Linked DNA regions of Homo sapiens. The protein of the gene in region 6 interacts with the protein of the main gene of each other region in a biochemical or structural test. Each region holds a gene or a part of one and is shown on either strand. Other genes may lie near its edges.

The links.
Region 1: the proteins of HCN2 (region 6) and NHERF2 interact in a test that uses a peptide from one of them, tested with the Homo sapiens proteins (one large-scale study listed by IntAct).
Region 2: the proteins of HCN2 (region 6) and GRIP1 interact in a test that uses a peptide from one of them, tested with the Homo sapiens proteins (one large-scale study listed by IntAct).
Region 3: the proteins of HCN2 (region 6) and RADIL interact in a test that uses a peptide from one of them, tested with the Homo sapiens proteins (one large-scale study listed by IntAct).
Region 4: the proteins of HCN2 (region 6) and TJP2 interact in a test that uses a peptide from one of them, tested with the Homo sapiens proteins (one large-scale study listed by IntAct).
Region 5: the proteins of HCN2 (region 6) and CARD11 interact in a test that uses a peptide from one of them, tested with the Homo sapiens proteins (one large-scale study listed by IntAct).
Region 7: the proteins of HCN2 (region 6) and PATJ interact in a test that uses a peptide from one of them, tested with the Homo sapiens proteins (one large-scale study listed by IntAct).

What each region holds. Positions count from the first base shown.
Region 1 is NC_000016.10:2,033,402-2,036,901, reverse strand, and holds part of NHERF2 (Na(+)/H(+) exchange regulatory cofactor NHE-RF2), read right to left. Parts: coding exon of another isoform or gene 3,470-3,500; intron 3,314-3,469; exon of another isoform or gene 1,218-3,313; coding exon of another isoform or gene 1,209-1,217; intron 579-1,208; coding exon 399-578; intron 175-398; coding exon 21-174; intron 1-20.
Region 2 is NC_000012.12:66,389,077-66,392,576, reverse strand, and holds part of GRIP1 (glutamate receptor-interacting protein 1), read left to right. Parts: intron 1-74; coding exon 75-269; intron 270-3,500. UniProt on the Homo sapiens protein: May play a role as a localized scaffold for the assembly of a multiprotein signaling complex and as mediator of the trafficking of its binding partners at specific subcellular location in neurons.
Region 3 is NC_000007.14:4,831,717-4,835,216, forward strand, and holds part of RADIL (ras-associating and dilute domain-containing protein), read right to left. Parts: coding exon 2,891-3,500; intron 463-2,890; coding exon 425-462; intron 1-424. UniProt on the Homo sapiens protein: Downstream effector of Rap required for cell adhesion and migration of neural crest precursors during development.
Region 4 is NC_000009.12:69,233,277-69,236,776, reverse strand, and holds part of TJP2 (tight junction protein 2), read right to left. Parts: intron 2,339-3,500; coding exon 2,230-2,338; intron 750-2,229; coding exon 539-749; intron 1-538. UniProt on the Homo sapiens protein: Plays a role in tight junctions and adherens junctions. Acts as a positive regulator of RANKL-induced osteoclast differentiation, potentially via mediating downstream transcriptional activity.
Region 5 is NC_000007.14:2,911,368-2,914,867, forward strand, and holds part of CARD11 (caspase recruitment domain-containing protein 11), read right to left. Parts: intron 2,100-3,500; coding exon 1,920-2,099; intron 930-1,919; coding exon 805-929; intron 1-804. UniProt on the Homo sapiens protein: Adapter protein that plays a key role in adaptive immune response by transducing the activation of NF-kappa-B downstream of T-cell receptor (TCR) and B-cell receptor (BCR) engagement.
Region 6 is NC_000019.10:588,640-592,680, forward strand, and holds the start of HCN2 (potassium/sodium hyperpolarization-activated cyclic nucleotide-gated channel 2), read left to right. Parts: upstream 1-1,241; 5' UTR 1,242-1,306; coding exon 1,307-1,938; intron 1,939-4,041. UniProt on the Homo sapiens protein: Hyperpolarization-activated ion channel that is permeable to sodium and potassium ions. Displays lower selectivity for K(+) over Na(+) ions. Contributes to the native pacemaker currents in heart (If) and in neurons (Ih).
Region 7 is NC_000001.11:62,119,980-62,123,479, reverse strand, and holds part of PATJ (inaD-like protein), read right to left. Parts: intron 2,300-3,500; coding exon 2,185-2,299; intron 460-2,184; coding exon 422-459; intron 1-421.

The DNA.
Region 1 (3,500 bases), on a different chromosome or scaffold from region 6:
TGCCCTGGGCCGTGGCCCACCTTCCACGTGCTCCTCGGTGGGTGTGACCCGAAGCCGCTTGAAGTGTTCATCTGTCTCGGGGTCCACGACCAGCAGCCGGGCCTCGTCCTCCCGTGCCTTGATGCTGGCCACCACCTCAGCATGGCGCAGTCCCTCCACATTCTGCCCGTTCACCTGCCGCCACCAGCATGTATCAGCCCCGCCATGGGCCCAGACAGCCCCCAACGCCGCGTGGCCAGGTGTGGCATCAAATATTCATCACAGCCACCGCCCACCGAGGCAGCAGGAGGCGCACCAGCTCAGGTTCCCAGCGTCTCCCTCCTCCCTGCAAGGACCCAGGGCCCCAGTGTGGACAGGTGCGGGGCACTCGGCACCCCGCAGCCCTGGTGGGCCGGTACCTCAATGAGCCGGTCCTGGGCGCGGAGGCCAGAGCGGGCGGCAGGTGAGCCCGGGTCCACAGAGCGGATGTACTGGCCGGGCCGGGACTTGTCACTATGCAGGTTGAACCCATAGCCCTGAGGTCCCTTTCGCAGGTGGCAGAGCCGAGGGCGCAGCTCCCTCAGGGGCCCACTGACATCCTGCAGGCCCAACGGACAGGGTCAGTCTCTTGCTCCAGCCTCCCGCCTCCAGAGGCCACTCCCCGGTGGTGCCGCCACTGCCCAAACTCGGTACCGTGCCCCCCACGGGCAGGCCCAGGTCTCAGTGGCAAACACTCCGGGCACCCAGGCTGCCTGTGACAGAGCTTTAGCTGTGGGAACTTGGGCAAAGCCTGTTTTCAAACCCAGAAGCCTCCCCGACGGGCCCAGCCGCCTTCCCGGGTTGCTGGGAGAATTCCTTTGGCTCGAGGCCAGCGTGGCGCACAGGCAGGGTGGGAGGAAGCACCAGGTGGGATGAACTGTCGCCGTTGGCCTCCTGGGGCGGTTGTCCCTGAGGGCTCTGCCTGTGCGTCCCCCTGCCCCGGGCTCTCCTCCAGAGCGTGGGGCAGGCGCTCCTAGGCCAGCAGTTTTGTTTTCTCTCCAGAGGCCTCCGTGGGGCTGGCTGCGGTGGCGGCTCTGTTTGCTTTCACATTCCAGGAAAATGAGCCGCCCCACCCCCGTGGGCCCAGCAAGCAGGGGCTGGGGCAGGAGCTTAGTGTGGACAGGGCACAGAGGGCCTCCTGGTGCCCGGAAGGACCCCCCGCTACCATCCCAGGCCCTGCCCCATGTTACCTCTGGCATCCTGCGGTAGGGCTCTGGGCCAGGGGACCATGCAGGCAAGGCCAGGCCCAATGACCACCTCCCAGCCAGGGGGTGGGCCAGGGTGCGGCGGCGGTGGCCAGCGGCTGCCCGTGCTCAGTTAAACATGGCGGTGGCCGGAGCAGGCAGGAGGCAGCTCAGGTTTCCAGGGAGCGCCAAGCTTGAGGGCGTGCGCAGGGGAGACTGTGCAGGCGGGCTGGGGGCTGCCAGGGCCCTTCCCTCACCTCCTACCTCCCTGTGTGTCCCTGAGGGACCACAGGCCAGGCCAGGCCAGGGCTGGGGCGGCATGGCAAGGGGGCGCTCAGACCTCAGGAGGGCAGGTCTCCAGGCCTCAGACACCCCCAACCCCTCCAGCCACCCACCTTCAAGCTCGCTCCAAACCCCAATGGACCAGAAACGGCCATGTCAGCGGGGGGGACCGCCCCGCCAAGGGAGCAAGGGGGTCCTTCTCCACACAGCTAGTGCTCTGTCCCCTGGGCTCAGGACCTGCCCTTGGTCTGGAACACCCTTCTCCTGTCCAGCCTGCCAGATGCCTCATCTGAAGCCTCCTGCCCACCCTCTGAACCCTCTCTGCATGGCCACCACCCAGCCCGTCACACCAGAAACTCCAGGGACAAGCCTGTGGCTCCCTGGCCCCACAGGGGCTCAGCTGGGCCACATGGGCTGAATTAGAGGGTGCAAGACCCCCAAAATCTCCAGGGCCCCACCACATAGACTCACTCCTCCCCCAGACACACCTGGTGGCACAGGCGTGGGGCTTCAAGGCTGACCCTGACACCTGCCCACCAAAGTGCCCCTCAGGGATGCAGTCACAGCACGGCCCCCAGGCTGGCCTGGGACGCAGGGAAGGCGTGGGGACAGGAGTCCAGTTCGGGAGGGGAAGTGGAGCACAGCCCCCAGGCTGGCCTGGGACGGAGGGAAGGCGTGGGGACAGGAGCCCAGTTCGGGAGGGGAGGTGGAGCACGGCCCCCAGGCTGGCCTGGGACGGAGGGAAGGCGTGGGGACAGGAGTCCAGTTCGGGAGGGGAGGTGGAGCACGGCCCCCAGGCTGGCCTGGGACGGAGGGAAGGCGTGGGGACAGGAGCCCAGTTCGGGAGGGGAGGTGGAGCACGGCCCCCAGGCTGGCCTGGGACGGAGGGAAGGCGTGGGGACAGGAGTCCAGTTCGGGAGGGGAGGTGGAGCACGGCCCCCAGGCTGGCCTGGGACGGAGGGAAGGCGTGGGGACAGGAGTCCAGTTCGGGAGGGGAGGTGGAGCACGGCCCCCAGGCTGGCCTGGGACGGAGGGAAGGCGTGGGGACAGGAGTCCAGTTCGGGAGGGGAGGTGGAGCACGGCCCCCAGGCTGGCCTGGGACGCAGGGAAGGCGTGGGGACAGGAGCCCAATTCAGTGGAGGAGGTGGGAGCGTGATATGGGCCCAGTCCGCAAAGACACATCACACAGCCACAGACACAAGACGTCCACACACACCTGCAAACACGCACAGCAGCCCACACATGCGGCCAGCCCCACAGTGCTGGCCCGGCAGCCCTTCCCACGCCTGCACAGCGGCCTGCGGGGCAGGGTTTCTCAGGGCACCAGACAGGAAGCAGGATCTGGTGGGTGTCTGGGGCCCTGAGGCCAGGCCAAGGACCCCTCAGTGTTCTCAGGGTCATTCTGGCCACCCCTCTGCCTCTGTCCAGAAGCAGCCGTCTTTCACTCTACAAGGCAAGAAGTTCTGCCTATCAAACCTAAACCCCTTCATTGTCAGCAGGGTCCCAGTGGCGCCAGGCACAGCACTAAAACCTCAGGTGGAGGGGCTGCAATGGAGGGGCCAGGGTGGGCTGCTGGCAGCACATGGGCTCGTGGGGAAGGGGGGCCCAGAGAGCCGAGGAGCTCGGGCGGCGTTCATAGCTCACATTCCTCCTCCCTGCCCTGGCTCAGCACACACTTCCTGCCGCCTCCCGCCAGGCCCTCGGGCTCCCACGGGCTCCAGGCTCCCTCCCTGCCGGCGGCCAGCACAGAGCTGGACCATCCCTGGTCCCCCAGCCATGCCTGTGTCCGGACAAAGAGGCTGGCATGGGGGTACCCTGGGCACCCCCCCAGATGGTGACGCACCAGCCCTGGCAGAGAAAGGCCTTCATTGTTGCTCAGCGACCAGCCTGCTTACATCAAGGTCCCGGAGTCCCCTCCTTCCACCCCGGGAGGCTGAGCGGCTGCCGGTTCCTCCTAGCCCTCCCTTCCTCCCACCCCACCTGACCTGTACCAGCCTCTGGGGTGGGCTCCGTGGA
Region 2 (3,500 bases), on a different chromosome or scaffold from region 6:
CTAGCCACGGAGTATCTTGGTATATTTTTATTTAAATTTACTCTGATACTTAAACTCCTTTCCTGTCTATAAAGCCCAGTCAGCATCGAGCCCCAAGAAGTTCCCTATTTCTAGCCATTTGAGTGACCTGGGGGATGTGGAGGAGGACTCCTCACCAGCACAGAAGCCAGGCAAGCTCTCCGACATGTACCCCTCCACGGTGCCCAGTGTGGACAGTGCTGTGGATTCATGGGATGGGTCTGCAATAGACACCAGCTATGGAACTCAAGGTATGTCTTTACTTTGTCCCCCAGAGGACTTGTCATTGTTGAAGCCCATGCTTCTCCAAGATTCATCCTCTGCTCCATGAGGAGAATATCTTTCTTTAACTTGTGTCTGCTTTGGTGCAGCCATAATCATATTGAACACATTGAATACTTACACTCTGCTGGCCATGCATTTTCTTCTAGTGCTTATAAGGCATGAACCTTTACCAAACACTAACAGGCCTCCATTAGGTCTACTGATGGCCAAGTATCCCATCCAGGGCTTGTCCTTCAAGCTTAGATTAATGTGAGGCAAACCATACAATAAAGTGGCTCGTTCAATACAGGCCCCATTGCCTTATTTTTCAGCAAGCTTTCCACAAAGATGGATTGGGGAGTTTGGAAGAGGTGCATAAGAGATTAGCCAATGATTTGTGACTCTATTTATTCCTGCACACTCCTGACTTTTTTTTTTCTTTTAGAGACTGGGTCTCACTCTGTCACCCCAGCTAGAATACCCTGGCACCATCATAGTTCATTATAGTCTCAAACTCCTGGACTCAAGGGATCTTGCTGCCTCAGTCTCCTCAGTAGCTGAGACTATGTGCACACACCACCACACCCAGCTGATTTTTAAATTTTTGTAGATACGGGGTCTTGTCATGTTCTCCAGGCTGGTATCAAACTTCTGGCCTCCAGCAATCCTCCCATCTTGGCCTCCCAAAGTGCTAGGATAATAGGCATGAGCCACCATGCCCTTTCCCTGAATGTTTATAATTAGAGCACTATAATCACAATATAGGAAAGTATAGAGTAGATTTTTCTTCATAGGTGTCATCGTCATGTGAAGAAATACTATCTACATTAAAAAGCCTCACTCATGGAATATAAACACATAAAAGGTGTCAGACTGAATACAGAGCATAAACTAATAGCTTCTTTTAAAAAATATTTTCTTCCCAGTGATCCGTAGCATCAACAAGAGAAGTATGTCAAAACTTCTTGGTATTTCTCCTCATCTGAGCCTTACCTTCTCTCATGTTCTATGTAAATTCCAGCCTCTGAATCCCTTGTTTGCTCTGGGTTTCAGTCAGTCAAATAATAAAACACATAAACAGTTTAGAGAACACATTGGTGTGAGGGCTGCTTTGTCACTGAGTTAACTGTACTTTTTAGGAGTGTCTGTATCCAGTTTGCTCTCTCCTGGTTTTCCTAGTTTCCTTCTCTCAGCCTGCCTATGTTGTGTCACTCTCTGTTAAGTCCTCTGGTGAACAAAAAACAAAAATGGAAGGGAGAAAAAACTGGAAAAAAAAATGAAAGGAGATGATATTTCAAAGTTGTCAAGTTGTTACTTTCATTAGAGATGATACTGGAGTTAGGTGGGGAAAATACTTTGAACACCTAAGTAGAATTGGGGCTTTATCTGGCAATTAATTTTTCCAAGTCATAATACCTTGTGACAAGTTCACCTATGCCACCAAATAACAGACCTTCTGATTGCCTGAGAATTGATGGGCCACCAGAAGACACTGAGTAAAGGACAGAAGTCACATTCTATCAGAGTAGACTCAGGTTTATTTATCAATTTATTGTGTATTGGTTATTTATTTGTGTATTTTTTGTGTATTGCTTATTAATGTAGAGATATTTTTGTTACCAGAGATTTTTGTGAGGGTGCTATTGATATTAATTAGTTCTTCCCTGTAAGGTGATCTGTAAGACCTTAGCTACTCCATCCCTTGAAACCACAGACACAGGACCATGAGAAGCAAACTGAATATAGGACCTGCCCCTCACTAGTAAAAGATGAAAAACCATTTACTATTTGTGAAGCATTTTGAAATTTTGAATCATAGTCATAATATTACATTTTGCATTTATAATTTAGACATTTTTATGAGGTTGAAGGGAACTGAGGGATAAGTAGAGACAATGGCAATCAGGATAGAATCGAAGTACTCCAAGGTAATGAAAAAATAGTAATAACCCTTTATATATATAGAACACTCTAGAGTTTACAAAGCACTTTCACATAACTAATCCCCATTAATTCTTGTGACGAACATGGGAGCTGAAGGCAGGATTTCAGGTTTGGAAAGGGTTTAGGAGTCAGCTAGTCTGATGTCCAGTGCAGCCCTTGGTGCCAGGTCCTGCCTCACTGCACGCCAAGACACGCTGCATGGACTTGAATGCCCAAGGTGACAGGTTGTTCCTTGTGCTGAGGCAGCCCCCCATCTCCACGTAGCTCTGATGACTCTAAAGCTCTCACTTGTATTGAGCTGCAGTATGCCTAATAGTCCCGGCTATACCCTCAAGGTCATTCTGCACTAGACTAAAGCCTCTTCTCCTGACAGCCCCTTAGATACTCGAAGACAGCTATTGGGTCTCTGTTGAGGCTTTCCTTCTCCAAGCAAAATAGCCCCAGTTCCTTTAACTGTGTCTTCTATAATTTACTGACGAGTATCTGTATCGTCCTGTGGACCTCCCTTACGAATGTGCTTCAGTTTACCTGTGTACCCGTTAAAGTGTAACATTCAGAAAGGAAAATCACACAACAGCCCGACAGCCCGGAGCAAAGCAAGCTGGTCACTGGCATCATTGAAGACAGGAGAACTGATCAATGACACCTACCTCAACATAAGAATTTTAGTGGTCATGGCACATCTGTCACTCATTTTGCGCTTACAGTTTACCGAGATCTCAAAGTCTTGTGAATGTGTTTTTTTTTCTTTACCCGTGATATTCAGTTAAACTGCATCTCTCCAGATTGTGCTTGTGAGGTTGACTTTTTAAAAGCAAGGCACAGCTGGGTGCAGTGGCTCAGGCCTATATTCCCAGCACTTTGGGAGGCTGAGGTGGGCAAATCACCTGAGGTCAGGAGTTCAAGACCAGCCTGAGCAACGTGGCGAAACCCCATCTCTACTAAAAATACAAAAACTAGCCAGGCGTGGTGGCACACACCTGTAATCCCAGCTACTCGGGAGGCTGAGGCAGGAGAATCGCTTGAACCAGGAGGCGGAGATTGCAGTGAGCCAAGATCATGCCACTGCACTCCAGCCTGGGCAATAGAACAAGACTACGTCTCAAAAAAAATTAAAACAAAAATAAAAGCAAGGCATAGAACCACACTTTTATTTTTCCTATTCAATATTATGTTGTGAGATACAGCTTATCTCTCCAACCTGTCCCTCCAGCCTCTCAGCAGGCTCTCTGCCTTGTTCCAGGAAGCCCCTGCACATTCTCTCTGTTCCCTTT
Region 3 (3,500 bases), on a different chromosome or scaffold from region 6:
TAAAAGTACAAAAAAAAAAAAATTAGCCAGGCATGGTGGTGCACACCTGCAGTCCCAGCTACTCGGGAAGCTGAGGCAAGAGAATCCCTTGAACCTGGGAGGTGTAGGTTGCTGTGAGCAGAGATTGCACCACTGCACTCCAGCCTGGCGATAGAGCAAACAAAACAAAACAAAACAAAAACAAACAAAAAAAGAAGACCTCACCCATCCAGTCTTAAGGGTGCCCTGAAGCAATTTCCCAAAACTCAGAGCTTCCCAGGGTGATGACTAAAGAAGCAAAAAAGGCCGCTGCTTGGATGGAAGGACAAAGCCCAGAGCTGACCCCAAGGCGTGGGGAGACCCCTCGGGACTTGGCTCCCCCGGGAAGTGTGAGCCCCCAGGACCTGCTGCCCAGAGGCGGGCACAATAACCGGGTCATACTCACAGTTGCGCCTGCTTCTCTGCTAGTTCTTTGGTTTTCTCCTACAATTACAAAGCGGGAGAAAAAGCAAGTGAGCAAAACAGGCTAACACAGGGACGCGTTCAAATACACGATACCATCGACAGGAAAACAAGCCATGCTGCCCCAGGCATCCTGTGTGACGCTGACTATTTATTCAAGCTGTGCTGGAAAGGACATTTTCCATGTGACTTCAACATCTTCCCATTCCATTACCGACTATGACCTACAAGTTTGCTACAATAGAGTATCTCACAACTCTCTAGCTTACATAACAACCGGCTATTTAAAAAATAGTAGAGGCTGGGCAAGGTGGCTCACACCTGGAATCCCAGCACTTTGGGAGGCTGAGGCAGGCAGATCACTTAAGGTCAGGAATTCGAGACCAGCCTGGACAACATGGTGAAACCCCATCTCTACTAAAAATACAAAAATTAGCCGGGTGTGGTGGCGCATGCCTATAATCCCAGCTATTTGGGAGGCTGAGGCAGGAGAATCCCTTGAACCTGGGAGGCAGAGGTTGCAGTGAGACGAGATCACGCCACCGCACTACAGCCTGGGTGACAGAGCGAGACTCCGTCTCAGCAAAAAAAAAAAAAAAAAAAAAAGAATTATTCTTGCCTTAGTAGTAAGTTATTATCCGGCTGAATGTAACCGTGATGGCTGAGTGCGCGTAGACTAAGCGTGTATATTTGGTAAGGAATGAGGACGGGGCAGCGGCGACACAGTTGCACATTCTCAGGAAACAAACGCGCAAATGATATTCGCATGGGATCTGGACAGCACCCAGCGGAGGCTTCGGATTCCCACAGTGGGTGCAGGGGGAAGAGGTGGACTCAGGCTCGGTCTCATGTCTATCAGCTCAATCTCTGGACCAGGCAATTCACCTCTGGGAGCCTCTGTTTCAGAGCCTGTAGCATAGGGGCAGGGTGAGCCCTGGTGTGCTGCAGGGAGTGGGCCAGCCACACAGCGAGCCCCAGGTGGCTGGGACACAGGCTGGGACCCGGGTCCCTCAGCAAGTGACTTACGGCCCCCTGGCTTCAGTTTCCCTGGCTGTGACATGGGGTGTGGCATCTACATCGTCAGGGTGGTTGTGATAAAGAAATTAAACAGCGTTTGGTTTGCAAGTAAGTGCCTGGCGCAGAGGAGACTCGGGAAATGACAATGATCGTGCGAAAACCCATGACTTCTGGCCAGCAGGTAACTCTCGGTCACAGTGGCCACGATGTGGACACACACTACAGGGACATCACCTGGCCCTGTGTCCATGACTGCACGGAGGGGACACGGGCACGCTGCAGTGGCACTCCCATCAAATCCCAAGCCGGGAACCCGAGGGGAAGAGGCACGGACACCCAGATTACAACACCCACGGTGCACAGAGACGGCTCCCACTGACATCTGGACAGGGAAGCCTGAGCTGGCTTTTACTTTTTAAAAGTCTCAGACATTTAAAATGTGGATTTCGATATGAGAAAGTGATAAGGTTTCTACACAGTCAAGTGGTTCCCCCTTCCCCTGTCTGCCGGGGATAAGCGGGGCCCAGACTAGCGAGGATCTGAGGGTCTCTGAACGAACTTGAACAACTACGAGTTGTCCTTCGGGTCCCTGGGAGCCAAGTCACTGTGGGGTGGGGCCCAGCGGGGGGCCATGACTGTGTGATGCCTGTTCCAGCACTCATGGGCCCAGGGCGGTCCTGCTCACTGGCGGCCACACTGGATTCCTGGGGACATTGGCAATGCCTGCAGCCATGGGTGTATTGCGTGTGTGTGTGTGGCGGGGCGGCAGAGGGTGACCGGCATCTAGGGGTGGAGGCCGGGGATGCTGCTGAATCCTCTGCAATGCACAGGCCAGCCTCACAGCAAGGAGCTCTCCTGCCACAGTGTCCACAGGGCCGGGGATGAGAGAGGCTGGCCTGGAGGAAAGTTCGTCAACGCACAAAAGGTGACGGGCCCTGCACCTCCAAACTCGGATCAGGGATGGCTCCAGCGGGTATGTGCTCAACCGGCCCCTGGCAGCAAGCACAGGGCGCCGGCACACACAGGGGCTTCTGGGGCTCTTGGGCAGGGGCCTGTGAGAGCTATCAATGTCACCTCGGCCTCGTGGTGCCCAGGCTCAGGGGCAGCTCACTCCTGGCACGTGACAGTGCTGGGCCCAGCTGGACCCCAGGGAGGGTACAAGCCCAGAGCTCAGGAGGTGACCTAGGACCCCACGCAAACCCCACCCTCAGGGGCAAAGGGCTGCAGCTGACACCTTGGGTTCTGGGGCTGCTTCTGGTGGCCTGTGGGGCTGGGGGGCAGCGACAGGCAGGGAAAGGCCGCCCTGCGCTCAGCAGCACAGCACCGTGGGGGTCAGATAGAGGCGCTCCCGCCTCCCAGCCGGGGCCAGCTCCGGGCCCCCTCTTCCCCCAGACCGGCACAGGACCCAGACCGCCCACCCCAGCACACTGACCCAGACAGTCTCGCGGATCAGCCTGGCTATCTTGAGCAGGAGCTGCCCGAATGTGCCCGGCTGGAAGTGGGTGGCCGAGTGCTGGATGCAGAGGCACAGGAGGAAGGCGGGGGTCAGCTTGTGGTCGTCGCCCCCCGGCTCGATCAACGTCATGATCCTCTGCAGCAGCGTGTCCTCCAGGTGGGGCTCAAACTCCAGGAGCAGCTGCTGGCGCCGGGGCAGGGCGGCCTGAGTAGGGGAGGCGGCTCCCCGGGCCCCGAGCGCGGCCCCGCACAGCCGGCAGCTCTGCGGCACAGCCCGGAGGCGCGCCAAGGCCCGGGCGGGCAGGGGCTGGGCCTGCGCGGGGTCCTTGAATAGCAGCAGGTAGTAGAGCCCCAGGGAGAGCAGGTCCCCGTGGTGCAGCACCACGGTCCTGTGCCCCACCTCGGAGAAGTTGACGGAGATGTGCGCCCCGGGGATGGGCTCCAGGACCAGCCTCCCCGCGGCCTGGCCGCTGTCCGGGAGCGGTTGCCGGCGGATGGTGCAGTGTAGAGGCAGGATGTCGGGGGCTGAGAGGCTGATGCTGGGCTTGCTGGAGGGGGTCCGCTGGCCCACCGTGTGCCGGTCCCGG
Region 4 (3,500 bases), on a different chromosome or scaffold from region 6:
GAAAAAGGCTGGGTCTCTGTGAAATCTCCCAGAAGTGGCTCAGCAATAAACATGTGAAATTTGGCCCATTCTGATATGCAGGTACACAGTACACACACCTGGAACTCCTGCTCAAATACAGGCCTCTTTTCTAGGTTCCTGCACTGTCAGCCAAACACCAAGTGTTCACTGGGGTGCATAAACCTCTCCAAGGATGGAGACTGGGCACCGGACAAGGGTACCTTGTCTCTAAGAGGTGTGCTGGTGTGCTACGGCCATTCAGTATATCTCTTGTATACGGTACAAGGCAGTGGATGCTCCTTAGGAAGTTGTTCAAACAGCCACATTCAGCAACCAACCACATGATGCTAAATTTACTCACAATAAACTGGCTGGTGGCTATTTACAGTTCAGGCCACTCTCCATAAACAAGAAATAGATGGTGACAAGTAATGAACTCATCATGTGGGGTTTCCTTTTACGGGGGAAGGGGGGCGGTCTCTAGTTTTCTGCAGGGGGAAGGATTAAAAGGGGTATGTGAGAATGCGATCTCTGTTACCTGCTCTTGTTGGGGATTAAGCCTTTCTCCAACTCGTTCCCAATCCTCACAGCCAGCCAGTTGCCCAGCTTGCCGTCATACAGTGTGTCTACCACTCGGAAGACCTCCCCTCTGGTGAAGGCCAGGCTCTGTGGAGTTTCCTTCTCACATTCAAAGTGGCTTCTTATAAAAAACGAATCCCCTCTGCCACAAGCCAGGATGTCTCTATACACTGAAAGACAAAAGCATCGTTTGTTGCATTCAGCTTAGTACAAGTTACAGTACTAGACACTCAACACAGCTTCTCCTATCTCTGATCTCCCCTTTACCTTCCTTCCATTCAGTGCACAAGTCCTATGGGAGTCACAGCTCCAACAGGAACAAGGACAAATAACCAGCTTCACGGCTTGCTGCAATGGTTAATTTTATTTCAACTTGACTGGGCCATGAAATAACCAGGTATTTGGTCAGACTTTATTCTATGCCTTTCTCTGAGGGTGTTTTTGAATGACAGTCACGTATAAATGGGTAGACTGAGCAAAGAAGATCGCCCTCCCCAATGCGAGTGGGCCTCATCCAATCAGTTGAGGGCCTGAAGAGAATGACAATCAGACCCCTTCTCAATTAAGAGGAAACTAGGCTGGGCGTGGTGGCTCATGCCTATAATCCCAGCACTTTGGGAGGCCAAGGTGGGTGGATCACAAGGTCAGGAGATCGAGACCATCCTGGCTAACACAGTGAAACCCCGTCTCTACTAAAAATACAAAAAATTAGCCGGGCGTGGTGGTGGGCGCCTGTAGTCCCAGCTACTCGGGAGGCTGAGGCAGGAGAATGGGGTGAACCTGGGAGGCAGAGCTTGCAGTGAGCCAAGATTGCTCCACTGCACTCCAGCCTCAGCGACAAAGCCAGACTCCGTCTCAAAAAAATAATAATAAATAAATAAATAAATAAATAAATAAATAAAAAATTAGGAGGAAACTACTCTTCCTGCCTGATGGCCTTCAAAAGGCGACATCAGCTCTTTTCCCTGACTTGGTACTGGAACTACACCATTGGCTCTCCTGGTTCTCAGGCCTTCAGACTGAGACTAGAACTAAATCACTGGCTCTCCTGAGTCTCTATCTTGCCCATTTTCACTGCAGATCTTGGCACTTGCCAGTCTCCATAATTATGTGAGCCAATTCTTTATAATAAATCTCTTTCTTTCCTATTGATTCCAATATCTCCTATCATTCTGTTTCTCTGGAGAACATTAACACAGTTGCCAATCAAGCTCTGAAGCAGACAAGGAGGACACTCTCAACACCCACTTAACAGATGGGAACAAGGCCTGGAAAGGTGAAACAACTTGTCAGACTGGACAGGGGTAACAGGCGCACCAGCCAGCAGCCATGGCCTTTGCACATGTCGTATGTAAACTCACTAATAACTCCAGGCAGAACATAAGGCTGCATCACTGTTCAGGAAGGCAGTTTTATTCCAAATTGACACAACTAGTAAAATTATTTCAGTGCATGCATAGAAAACATTTTTATGGAAAGTTAAACGGCACTCACATTTTCTTCACACACCTAGGGCCCAAGGACTAGGTGTTGAGATCCATCTCAATTTTTTAATACCCAGATTTGCCTATTCTGGTACCAAGACACCTCTCTCATCCTTCCCACTCCCCACCCCCACCCCAACTAAACTAAATGACCAAATTTGCTCACCATCGGCTCGGCTCTGAGCTAAAATGGTCACCATTTCACCTTTAGGGATTTCTAACAGGTAGAGAACGGCATCCTCCCGCACTAATCCTCTGAAATCCTGTGTGTTCACCTATTAGGAAGGAAAAACAGAAAAAGAAAAAAAAAAAAAAGAAAGAAAGAAAGAAAGAAAGAAAGAAAAAACAGAGAAGTTTATAGTAAGATGCCACTGACCCTTTTGTTTGTTTTCATCAGGGCCTGTCCAGAGCAAAGCCAAGATGCAAATGAGTCCTTAATGTCACTATTCAAGTCCTCGCGCCCAGCACCTTGCTATGGGCCTGCACACTATACCTTCCTGCCTCCCCATACTGCCAACCGCACCTTAGAGGTTAAGCCATTGAAGCAAGGATCTGTCACCAGATCACAATAGAATTTCTTGTGGTTGTTTCTATCCATCTCCCTTCTGTGAGTCTCTCACAGAGGTGGCCAAGAAGGTAATACACAAGTATGAAGCATGGGGAGTGTTGGGGTCTGTGACAACTGAGCATGCTGGCCCAGCATTTACACTAATTTTAAACTGGTTCAAATAAAAGTGTGCAAATAAAGACTCTGACCAATTCTACCCTTCTCCTATAGCTTCTATCACCTAAAAGTGTTTAACATGTGTTTATAAAATTGAAAGGTATGTATCAAATTAAAGAGCATCAGCCTTACAGTTACAAAGCAAGTAAAATTGAAATGTAGCACAAAGAACAAGACATTTTGAAATCATAGTGCTATGTGGTTTTTTTTTTTGAGATGTAGTCTCCCTCTGTCGCCCAGGCTGGAGTGCAATGGCGCGATCTTGGCTCACTGCAACCTCCGCCTCCTGGGTTCAAGCAATTCTTTTGCCTCAGCCTCCCTGAGTAGCTGCGACTACAGGCATGTGCCACCACACCCAGCTAATTTTTTTTGTATTTTCAGTAGAGACAAGGTTTCACCATGTTGGCCAGGCTGGTCTCGAACTCTTGACCTCAGGTGATCCGCCCACCTAGGCCTCCCAAAGTGCTGGGATTACATGCGTGAGCCACCACGCCTGGCCCATAGTTCTGTATCTTTCAGCCTATTTTAAAACAGAATTATAAATAAGTAAAATGCAAAAACCATATTAAAGTACCTGATATGTTAATAATATTTTGTAGAAATAAAGATATAAAATTCCTATGAAATATTTTCTTCAGTCATTGACAATTACAGAATCCTTTTAATCACAAGAGTAATGCTTTATTAAAGAAGAAACTTATCCTTAGTTGGGT
Region 5 (3,500 bases), on a different chromosome or scaffold from region 6:
GGCCTCCTGCGGGGCCACTGCTCCCCATTCCCCACCAATAGGACCATGGCCCACATTTCTACAGCACAGATCTGCTGGAAGGCTTCTTCTTTTCAGCTAAAAACAATCTCAGCTCCAACCCTGTCTGCTCACTTTCTATCCACGCCAGCTATCAGAATTTCCTAAACTGCTGTGGCCCAGACTTAAAAAAAACAAAAACACCACCATCTGCTCTTGCCATCCCCAAGGTCAGCGTCCACCACGGAGCCAGCCCCCGGCAGCTGGGGGAGCCCTCCAGTGACGCGGACAGAGAGCCTTTTCTTCATCCAGTGCTGGGACGAGGAAGAGCTCAACGCTTAGGTCACATTGTCTGGCTCCAAAGACTCCACATTGCACACAGACAACCTTTTTGCATCGTTGCCAATAACCCTTGTGATGCCCCGTTTTCCCCTCGTTTGGTGAATGCAATACCTGTCACCTTCATGTTCATCCTGTCTCTCGCCCTGATGAGCTCGTTCTCTATCTCTGGCCCTTGTTATCACAACCAGACACACACACTCCTAAATAATGCGAACACACACCAGCTCCAGGAAGCCAACACAAATAGAAAGCTCCAAAATAAAAACTCACTTCAGAGCCCAGGGAACAAGGGTGCAGAGAGGGAGTTAACACGGGGCAGCTGCTGGGACAAGGGGAAAAGGAGAGGTCTGGCCACGGGGAGGTGAAAACAACTCTTCATCCCACCCTTGTCCCTGGCCCAGGTGGCCTCATGAGGATCATCACGGAGGGTCCTGGCCCCATCCAACCTCCCAGTCCCCGCCTCACCTTGGCGGCCACAGCTTCAATGTTGGCAGGGGCGATGCATTCGAACGCGTTGGGGTTCTTCTCTCGGGAGTAGATGATGGTCTCCGTCTTCTGCCTTCTGAGGAACTCATCTCTTGTGACGATATCTGCAGAGAGAGGGGCCAGTCCTGAGGGCAGCACGAGGTGGCCTTGGGTTGACCATCCCACTCAGGCCCTGCCTGCCACCTTCTGGGCTCTACAGAACTCGATGTCCGATCCCCTTCCAGCCATGTTTAAATGAATCTCGTCTCCCCTCGACTAGACTGTGAAGCTCCTTGAGGGCAGGGCTAAGGTTAACCTTCTCCATACTCCCCATGGCAGCCCATAGAGCAGGTGCTTGGCACCTCAGCAATACCTTTCACTGGACAAAGCAGCTCAGGCACCGTGGTGCAAGGCTGATCACCAGTCTAAATAAATCTCCTGTTCCACCCACCCACCCACCTACCCATCCATCCACCCACCCATCTACCGACCCCTCACCCACCCACCCATCTGTCCACCTACCTATCCACCCATCCACCCATCCCCTTATCCATCCATCCATCCATCCATCCATCCATCCATCCATCCACTCATCCATCCATCCACCCACCTATCCATCCATCCATCCATCCATCCATCCATCCATCCATCCATCCACCAATCCATCCACCCACTCACCCATCCACCCACCCATCCTTCCATCCATCCATCCACCCACCCATTTATCTATCAATCTGTCCACCCACCCAGTCACCCATCATCCATTCAGCCATCCTTCCATCCATCCATCCACCTATCCAGGGGGAGGAGGGGTGATGGGGAGGAGGAGGAGGGAAGAAGAGGGAGGAGGGAGGGGAGGATGAGGAAGAAGAAAAGGAGGGGAGGAAAGGGGAGGAGGGAAGTGAGGAGGGGGAGGGGAGGAGTGAGAAGTTGGAGGAGGGAGAAGAGAAGAGGGAGAAGGGAGGAGGAAGGAAAGGAAAGAGGGAAGAGGAGGAAAGAGGGAAGAGAAGAGGGGAGGAGGGAAGAGAAGAGGGGAGGAGGGAAGAGAAGAGGGGAAGTCGTCCTGGTTCATGGCTCCCGCGGGGCTCCCCAGGTGGCCGTGGCTCGCCGCTCACCTGACTTGCAGATGGTGAACTCCATGGCACCTCCCGAGTTGAGCAGCCTCTGCACCAGCGTCTTGGCCAGCACGGTGGGTGTGAAGAGCACGGGCCGGCGGCGCTCGCAGTAGAAGGCGCGTACCAGGCTGTAGGGGATGAGGCTGAGGTTCTTGCCCAGCTCGCTCTCAGGGTCCAGCTCTGGCAGGGGCAGGAGAGGGTGGCGGTCAGACCCCTGGGGCTCCGAAGACCTTCCACGGAGGACGGGGCCCCTGGGCTGGGTCCTGGAAGCCACCGTCAGTGTGAAGGCCTGGCTGCTGCCCCGGGCATCCAGTGTCTGAGGTCACCTCGGGCTGGCACTGCTTGGGGCTTGTGTGCCAGGGAGGGGAGGTGTGGTGGGGGGCAGGCAGAGTGTGTGACAAATGCAGGAACCTTGGCTGAGCTCTGGAGGGAAAGTTTGCCTTGTCAGACGATCAAGGAGGGCTTCTTGGAGGAAGGGTAGGGACTGGGTACAGCCCAGCGGAGGGGAGGGCGAGGGCAAGGAAAGCAAGTGCCGGCAGGCACCCACGAGACACCAGGACCAGCGGCCAAGGCCTTGGGTGTCTCCCAGGAGCACTGGGAGGGACGACTTGGCCTCAGTTCTGCTTTCTCAGTCCCTCTGTGGCTGGAGTGGCAGAGCCACACAGAAGCCCGGGGTTCTGATGAAGCCACCCCCAGGCAGCCCGAGGAAACAGCTCCCAGAAACGGGCAGCCTGTCCCTTGTCCCTTGTGCCTTTTCTTGTACCCTGGCCTGGCCACTCCAACGTCCAAAGGGCCAGCCCGGGAAGCCGCCCCAAGGCCTCCTTTGAGATCCAGCCAGGGCTGTGTGGCTTCCCTTTCCCTGAGCAGGGCCAGCCAGGGCCAGCGGGGTGGGGGACGGTGGACCGGGAGGCCCCTCGCCGGGTTGATAAATGGCAAGTGGCACTCAGTGGGTAGAGAAATCAATAAAACGAACACTTCACAGCAAACAGCCCCAATTAACACGGGTACCCGGGAGCGAAGCAACCACACGAGAGCGTCGTTATTGGGTGAGCTTGGCGGGATGTCACCCCGAGGCAGCATGGTCCTCACAGCCAAGGCCAGGCTCCCTCACCGTTTTAATTTCTTTTTGTCTTTTATTTTTATTTTTAGAGCTAGGAGTCTTGCTGTATGGCCCAGGCCAGAGTGACTGCAGTGATGTTATCTTGGTTCACTGCAGCCTCAAACTCCTGCTCAAGTGATCCTCCCACCTCAGCCTCCCAAGTGGCTGGGACCATAGGCACGTGACACCATGCCTAGCTATTTACATATTTTAAGATTTATTTTTAATGCTTTATGTTTTTATTTTAATGTTTTTATATATTTTATAGTTATATATATATATATTTATTTATTTATTTTATTTTATTTTTTTTTCTGAGACGGAGTCTCGCTCTGTCACCCAGGCTGGAGTGCAGTGGCGGGATCTCGGCTCACTGCAAGCTCCACCTCCCAGGTTCACGCCATTCTTCCGCCTCAGCCTCCAGTGTAGCTGGGACTACAGGCGCCCGCCACCGCGCCCGGCTAACTTTTTGTATTTTTAGT
Region 6 (4,041 bases):
GTCAGCCGGGCACATGCTGGCCCTCCCTCAAGTACCACTGAGTGCCTCCTGGGTGTAGGAAGAGGGCCATCTCTGCCCCGGTGGCCTCGAGGTGCAGATGGGTGGGGGGCACCCGGCACACGGGACATCGTGGCTGAGAGGACGTCAGGCCAGGTGCCAGGAGGGTCCCAGGAGGGCCTCCTGCCTCCAGGTGGGGATGTTCAGCCTCCACTTCTTCGAGTGTGACTGTCTGTCTCCTCTCTCTCACTTGCCAGCTTCCTCACCTGCCCCCTCCCGGCTGTCTGGTGGGCTGGGTGGCTAGGGACAGAGGCCTCATGTCACCTGGCACCAAGCAGCACCCACGCCCAGCCGGCTTCGGCCCAGAAGCAGAGCCTTGGGAAGCACCTGTCTCAGAGCTGGGGACTGGAGGCACTGGGGGCACAGCTGCACCCGGAGTCCGAGGGGTCGGGGAAAGGAGGCAACCCCGGGGCAGGGGGCTCTGGTACCCGTGCGAAGGCGCTAGTGGGCTTTGGGTCTCCCTGTGACCCCAATCTAAAGCCCACCAGACCTAGAGGAGACCCCCGCCGCACGGCTCCCCAGGGCACTGTTTGAGGGGTGGGTGGGAACCCCACACCCTCGGGTGGCTTTTCCAGTTTTCCTTGTCTGGCTGGGCTTGGCCTCAGTTTCCTCAAATGCAGACCAGGGAGAGGAGTGCCTGAGTCTCCCAGAACGGCGCCCAAGCCGGCCTGCCCCTCCCCACGCACTCAAGGGTCTCTGTCCAGGGCCCACAGGCGACCCAGCAAGGGCTCCTGTGACCTTTAGAAACACCCTTTCGTCGTGGAAGTCTTCAAACCTCACAGAAAGCAAGGAGGCGCTGGCCGTGGCGGCCTCTCCCGTCTCCCAGGCCCGCGTCCACCCTCCCCGCGCCGGTGCCCTCCGGACAGAGGTGGAAGCCGCGGCGCAGGAGAGGCGGCTCCGGCCGGGCAGCGGGGCCCGGTGACCTTGGGCGCGTCCTTACACGTCGCGGGCCTCAGTTTCCCCTCCTGGGGAGAGGCCCGCGCGGGGCTCCGAGGCCTCGGGCCGCGTGACCTTGGGGCGCCCCCGACCCCGCGGCCCGAGTTTCCCGGCGCCGAGCGGAGGCGGCGCGCGGGGAGGGGGCGCAGCCGAGGCGGGTCTCCCGCCCCCGCCCCTCCCCCGCCCCTCCCCCGCCGCGAGGCTCCGCCCCCCGCGGCTCCGCCCCGCCCCGCCCCCGCCTCCCCCCTCCCTCGGGCTCCGGCCGGCGGCGGCGGCGGCGGCTCCGCTCCGCACTGCCCGGCGCCGCCTCGCCATGGACGCGCGCGGGGGCGGCGGGCGGCCCGGGGAGAGCCCGGGCGCGACCCCCGCGCCGGGGCCGCCGCCGCCGCCGCCGCCCGCGCCCCCCCAACAGCAGCCGCCGCCGCCGCCGCCGCCCGCGCCCCCCCCGGGCCCCGGGCCCGCGCCCCCCCAGCACCCGCCCCGGGCCGAGGCGTTGCCCCCGGAGGCGGCGGATGAGGGCGGCCCGCGGGGCCGGCTCCGCAGCCGCGACAGCTCGTGCGGCCGCCCCGGCACCCCGGGCGCGGCGAGCACGGCCAAGGGCAGCCCGAACGGCGAGTGCGGGCGCGGCGAGCCGCAGTGCAGCCCCGCGGGGCCCGAGGGCCCGGCGCGGGGGCCCAAGGTGTCGTTCTCGTGCCGCGGGGCGGCCTCGGGGCCCGCGCCGGGGCCGGGGCCGGCGGAGGAGGCGGGCAGCGAGGAGGCGGGCCCGGCGGGGGAGCCGCGCGGCAGCCAGGCCAGCTTCATGCAGCGCCAGTTCGGCGCGCTCCTGCAGCCGGGCGTCAACAAGTTCTCGCTGCGGATGTTCGGCAGCCAGAAGGCCGTGGAGCGCGAGCAGGAGCGCGTCAAGTCGGCGGGGGCCTGGATCATCCACCCGTACAGCGACTTCAGGTACCGCCTCCGGGAGGGCCGGTCGGCGCGAGGGGGCCCGGGGAGCCGGGCGCGCGGGGAGCCGTCCTTGGAGCGCCTGGGGAGGGCGGGGCGGCGCGCCGGGCCGGTGACCTCGGGGCTCCTCGGTGACCTCGGGCGTGTCCGGGACCCGCCCCGGAGTGACCCCGGCGCGCGAGGCTCCGCCTCTGGGGGGGCTCCCCGGGTGACCGCGGAGCGCCCCCCTCCCACGCACCCCGACATCCTCCGCCCTGCGGCGCGGCGGGTGGGGTGGGCCGCAGGGCCAGGGTCTGAGCGCAGAGGGGCAGAGAGGACGAATAGAGGGGAACGTGGGCCCCAGAGAGGCGGCGGAGCGGGAGGGAGGAGGAACGAAGGGCGCCCGGGAAGGACGCGCCCCAGGGAGGCCGGGGGAGAGGGGGTTAAGCGGCTCCCACGGCGTCCACCCGCGCCCCGCCTGCGAGGAGGCGCGCCCGGGGCCGCGGGCCTGGAAAGCGTGCGGGTCCCCAGGCTGTGTCCCCGGGAGCCGCTCCACCCGAGCCGCGGGCGGTGCGCGCATGCGGCGGTGGGTGTGTAGACGCCGCTGTGGATCCAGCCGGCTAATGCGTGGAAGGCTCGGAGCAGGGCCGGCGCGGGGCCACCGCCACTGATGTTTGCGGTCGTGGTTCCTGGGCTGTGCGTGCTGTGGCCGGAGAGCGAGACCGGCGCGTGTCCCCGTGGGCTGTGTGTGAACAGGGGCCCGTGACCGCGGCGGGGTTCCCGGGGCGCGAGCCTGTGGCCGGAGAGGTGTGTCTCCAGGAGTGTGTTTGCGTGGTGGTCGCGGGCGTGTGCGCCTCCGGTGGGTTTATTTTGGTGGGACGTGTGGTTTGTGTGTGTTGGGACCAGGTGGCGGGCGTGCGCGTGTACGCCCGGGGCCGGTGTGCACCGGTGGGCAGTAGTGTGAGCCGCAGGCAGGTCTCACACACGCGACCATGGAGGGATGCGTGTGTGTTTGTGTATCCACGAGTGGGGTGTGAGGTGGGGTGTGGAGGGTGCAGGTGGAGGGTGTAGGTGGGGCCCGCCGGGCTAGCGAGGCCGGGCGCGCGGGACGGGCGCGGTTTCAGCACCACGGACAGCGCGCCGGACCTGGGAAGCCTGCGGTTTTCCCGCCTGTCTCTCCTCCTCCAGGCCTGGGCGCCCCAGGACAGCCCCCACGGACCCTGGACCCCCGGAACTGGGCAGGGAGGCTGTGGGGTTCTCTCTTCCCCTGGATTCTCTGCACCCCTAGTGCTTGACTGGAGAAACTGAGGCCTGGGGCACATGCGTCCTGGACAGAGCCTGGAGGAAGGCCCTGGAATCCTCCTCCCACCCCAGGCCTTCCTGAGAGGTGAATACAGCTTTGACCAGAAGCCTGGATTTCGAGACAGGCCAGGGGTGGGAGGAGCCCCGAAATCCCCAGAGGGGCTGTGTCCGGCCCCTCCCACCCTGCCTCTGTGCCCCACCGGGAGAGCTTGGTCAGCATCTGGGCTCTGGCCTGCGAAATGTGGACAGTGAGCGGGAAGGACTGGACTTCCAGGGCTGCTGGTCGGCCTGGCCCCACTTCCAGTCGGGCAGTGGCACCCCCTGACCGGAGAGGGACGCGGTGGAGAGGGAGCTGTAGAACGTGCCCACTCCCCTCCGTCCCCTCCAGCATGACCTTCGACAGAGATGGGTGCACCGCAGCGTGGGGGCTGGCAGGTGGAGGCCCACACCAGCCACTCCCTCCCCTGGGCAGCTCCAGCGACCCCCTGGCTGCAGAGGGGCGGTCGGTGGCCTGGGGGGCAGGTGGGCAGATGGCTGATCCCGGGGCTTGGGGGGAAGGCCGGTGGTAGGAGTGAAGCCCTCTCATCCTTCCACCCTCCTTGGGCGTGGTCGCCTGGAGGCCTGGGCAGGCTGTGGCCCCGCTCTGTGCTCTGAGGCATAGAGGGCTCAGAGGCCCCTGTGTGGACCAAGTGCAGCCCCACCCCGGCAGATGAGTGTTGAAGTGGAACTGAGCAGGCAGGGAATGGGGTTAGCGGGGCCTGTCTTCGGGACTAGGGGAGTCACGGCAGTCAGATTTTAAAAAAGGATTTCGATGTTGCCAAGCTGGGT
Region 7 (3,500 bases), on a different chromosome or scaffold from region 6:
AAAAAAAAAAGAAACTTATAGCACATTCATAAGATGGAGTACTATGAAATCGATAAAAATCATACTATATGCTCTCAAAAAATACTTATTTAGTATGTGCCACATGATACCATTTTTGTTTTATAAAACTTTACATGTACAGGTTAAAAGACTAAGATTGAAAAAATAAATAAATAAAAATAAAACTTACACATAGCACAGAATATAGTGGATGAGATTTGCCAAAAAATTCATAGAGGTCATCTCTGTGCTCTACTGTACTTTTCTAAGTCTATTTATTGATGTTATTTAGACCATATTTTTATCTCAGTAACTTGAAAGAGCACACTCACAATCCAATAAACTGTATTGGGGAAAATGTACATTTAGTGCAAATCCAACACAAACCAGAAAAATACATACAGCAAAATGACTGACTTACCCTGTTTATCTCAACAGTCCTTGGTTCCATATCTGTGCCTATAAAGAAGCAACACAATTAACTTTTTAATATTAAAAAATAATATATTTAGCATATAATATTGCCCCATGAAAAATGGTTTCATTTTCTAGGTCTTTCAAGAGAAGACACTAAAGCAAGCAGGTATTGTACCCTTCCTCAGCATCCAAGCTGGTAGCCAAGTCACCAGGGGCCATGTCCTCTTTTTTTTTTTTTTGACACAGAGTCTCGCTTTGTCACCCAGGCTGGAGTGCAGTGGCACCATCTCAGCTCACTGCAACCTCTGCCTCCCAGATTCAAGCAATTCTTCTGCCTCTGCCTCCAAATAGCTGGGATTACAGGTGCCTGCCACCACGCCCGGCTAATTTTTGTATTTTTAGTAGAGACGGGGTTTCACCATGTTGGCCAGGCTGGTCTCAAACTCTCGACCTCAAGTGATCCACCTGCCTCGGCCTCCCAAAGTGTTGGGATTACAGGCGTGAGCCACCGTGCCCGGCCTGCTGTGTCCTCTATTTTAAAGAAGTGCTCTCTGTTTGAGATCAATGTGGCCATAACCATTTGGTCTGACAAAAGTGGATGGGCTATATAGCAGCAGCTGCCTGGAACATGGTGAGTAAATGCTTGGAGGATGACTCATTTTTGTGTGTGTGTGTGGTTTTTTTTTTTTTTTTTTTTTTAGATGGAGTCTCACTCTGTCGCCCAGGCTGGAGTGCAGTGGTCCGATCTTAGCTCACTGCCATCTCTGCCTCTTGGGTTCAAGCGATTCTCCTGCCTCAGCCTCCCAAGTAGCTGGGATTATAGGCATGTGCCACCATGCCCGGCTAATTTTTGTATTTTTAGTACAGGCGAGGTTTCTCCATGTTGGCCAGGCTGCTCTCAAACTCCTGACCTCAGGTGATCCGCCTGCCTTGGCCTCCCAAAGTGCTAAGATTACAGGCATGAGCCACCGGGCCCGGCTGAGTCATTTGTGTTTCATTGTACATTTTTTTCTACCTTAATCAAAGATAACCCTCCATTCAACAAAAGACTTAAAAGGACCCCTTGTCCCACCCTGCCCCCAAGGATATACACACTTTTTTTTTTCTTTTAACTGGCCCAATTTTCCCATAGAAGGTATACACACTTCTGACCTTTCTCCAGTGACCTGTAATTTATTAATTTTCTCTTTGTAAGTAATTTTATTTTACCATGCACTCCAGCTTTCTGCTTTTCTGTTTTTCAGGTGCTTTGTGTTGTGCCACTGAAGGAATTTCTTTTTTTTTTTCTGGAGACGGAGTCTTGCTCTGTCACCCAGGCTGGAGTGCAGTGGCACGATCTTGGCTCACTGCAACCTCCACCACCCCCGCCAGTTTCAAGCAATTCTCCTGCCTCAGCCTCCTGAGTAGCTGGGACTACAGGCGTATGCCACCACGCCCGGCTAATTTTTTTTTGTATTTTAATAGAGACGGGGTTTCACGGGGTTAGCCAGGATGGTCTCGATCTCCTGACCTCAGGTGATCCGCCCGCCACAGCCGTCCCAAAGTGCTGGGATTACAGGTGTGAGCCACCATGCCTGGCCACCACTGAAGGAATCTCTATGGCTTTCCTACCTTCAGAACATGCCTTTCAGAAAGCTCAGCTTATGTGGCCAAGCTCAAAAAATTAAAAAACATTTATATTAAAGAAGACTGGTTTTTAAAAAACACATTTTTTTTTTTTAATTTGGGTAACAGGATAGTTTTGCTCTGGGTGTGTCCGTGTAATACCTGAATTTTTCTGGGAAGGATCTGAAACTCTTTTTGTGCCAACCAGGTTTTGCAGGCCAGTGATGACAGGAGCGAAGGAGGGATGACAGCTGCTGTGTGCACTCTGCTGACTACCCTGAAAGAAAGACCCAGGGGTCACCTGTGTGCAGACACTGACTTGACCCCCTAAATGCATACTTATCCATTAGTGTGCCAATTACTGATGTCACCATAACCATCTAACAGAAAATCGTGAGGAGGCCAGGAAAGAAAACAAAAATCACCCACACTATTCTCTTACTACCTCAACCCAATCCCATTTAGACATTTCCTCCATTGCTTTCTCCATTATGTGTGCTTTTGTATATGGTTTCAATCACCAAGGTGGAGACCATAGAATCATTTCAGCTGTTCTTGCTCCACATAAAATCAAAACCATTTTCCTAGGTTGCCACATAGTGTTTATGTATATATAGTCAGCTAATGGGCACTATGTTTCATTTGGGGTTACAGTCAACTTTATTACCCAAAATGTATTATGTATTTTGCTAAAACAAGTATAATAAGACCTTGATTAGCAGAAACCTGCCAAAATAGAACCCTCAATTGTGGGGAAAAAAGCACCAAATCTGAAGGGAAAAAGACTTGTTTTAGGGATATATAACATTTTTTTCTCAAAGATTTTCCTAGAATCAGTAATAATTTAGTCCAATCTGCTAGATCTCCATTACCTGTCCCTTTATTCATTTAAATGAATATGTGAGGTTAATACTGTGTAGTCTTTTAAGGCTAGTGGCTGTTCAACAAAAACTGTATACATAGTGAAGGGCCTTTCTTATGTAGACGAAAACATTGCAAATAATGAATATTTTTTTCTACCAAATTATTCTGCATCAAAATTTTAAGCTAAGCCTAAGATCACTGTTATCAGTTCATAAATTATAATTTGGTCCATTTTCTTAACTCTATGATGAAAGTTGTTTAATATTTTAATTCCTAAAATATGAAAACCTTCAAATATATAGAAAAGCTGAAAGAATTATACAATAGACATCCATATAAATAGCACCTAGATTTCACAATGAGTATTTTGCTATATTTCCTTTATCACATAGCCATTTATCTATTCATCACTCATCTTTTTTTAAAAAATTCATTTCAAAGTAAGTTGTAGATCTCAGTATACTTCATAGTGGCTATATACATTTAAAGGAGTGTTTTTATACTTTTCCTTAAAGGATATGATTTAAGTAAATGGTACTATAATAGATAACTAATCAGAACTGAGGAAGTACAGTATATTATAACTTTTGCCTTTAAAAAATTTCAGAAAGGTG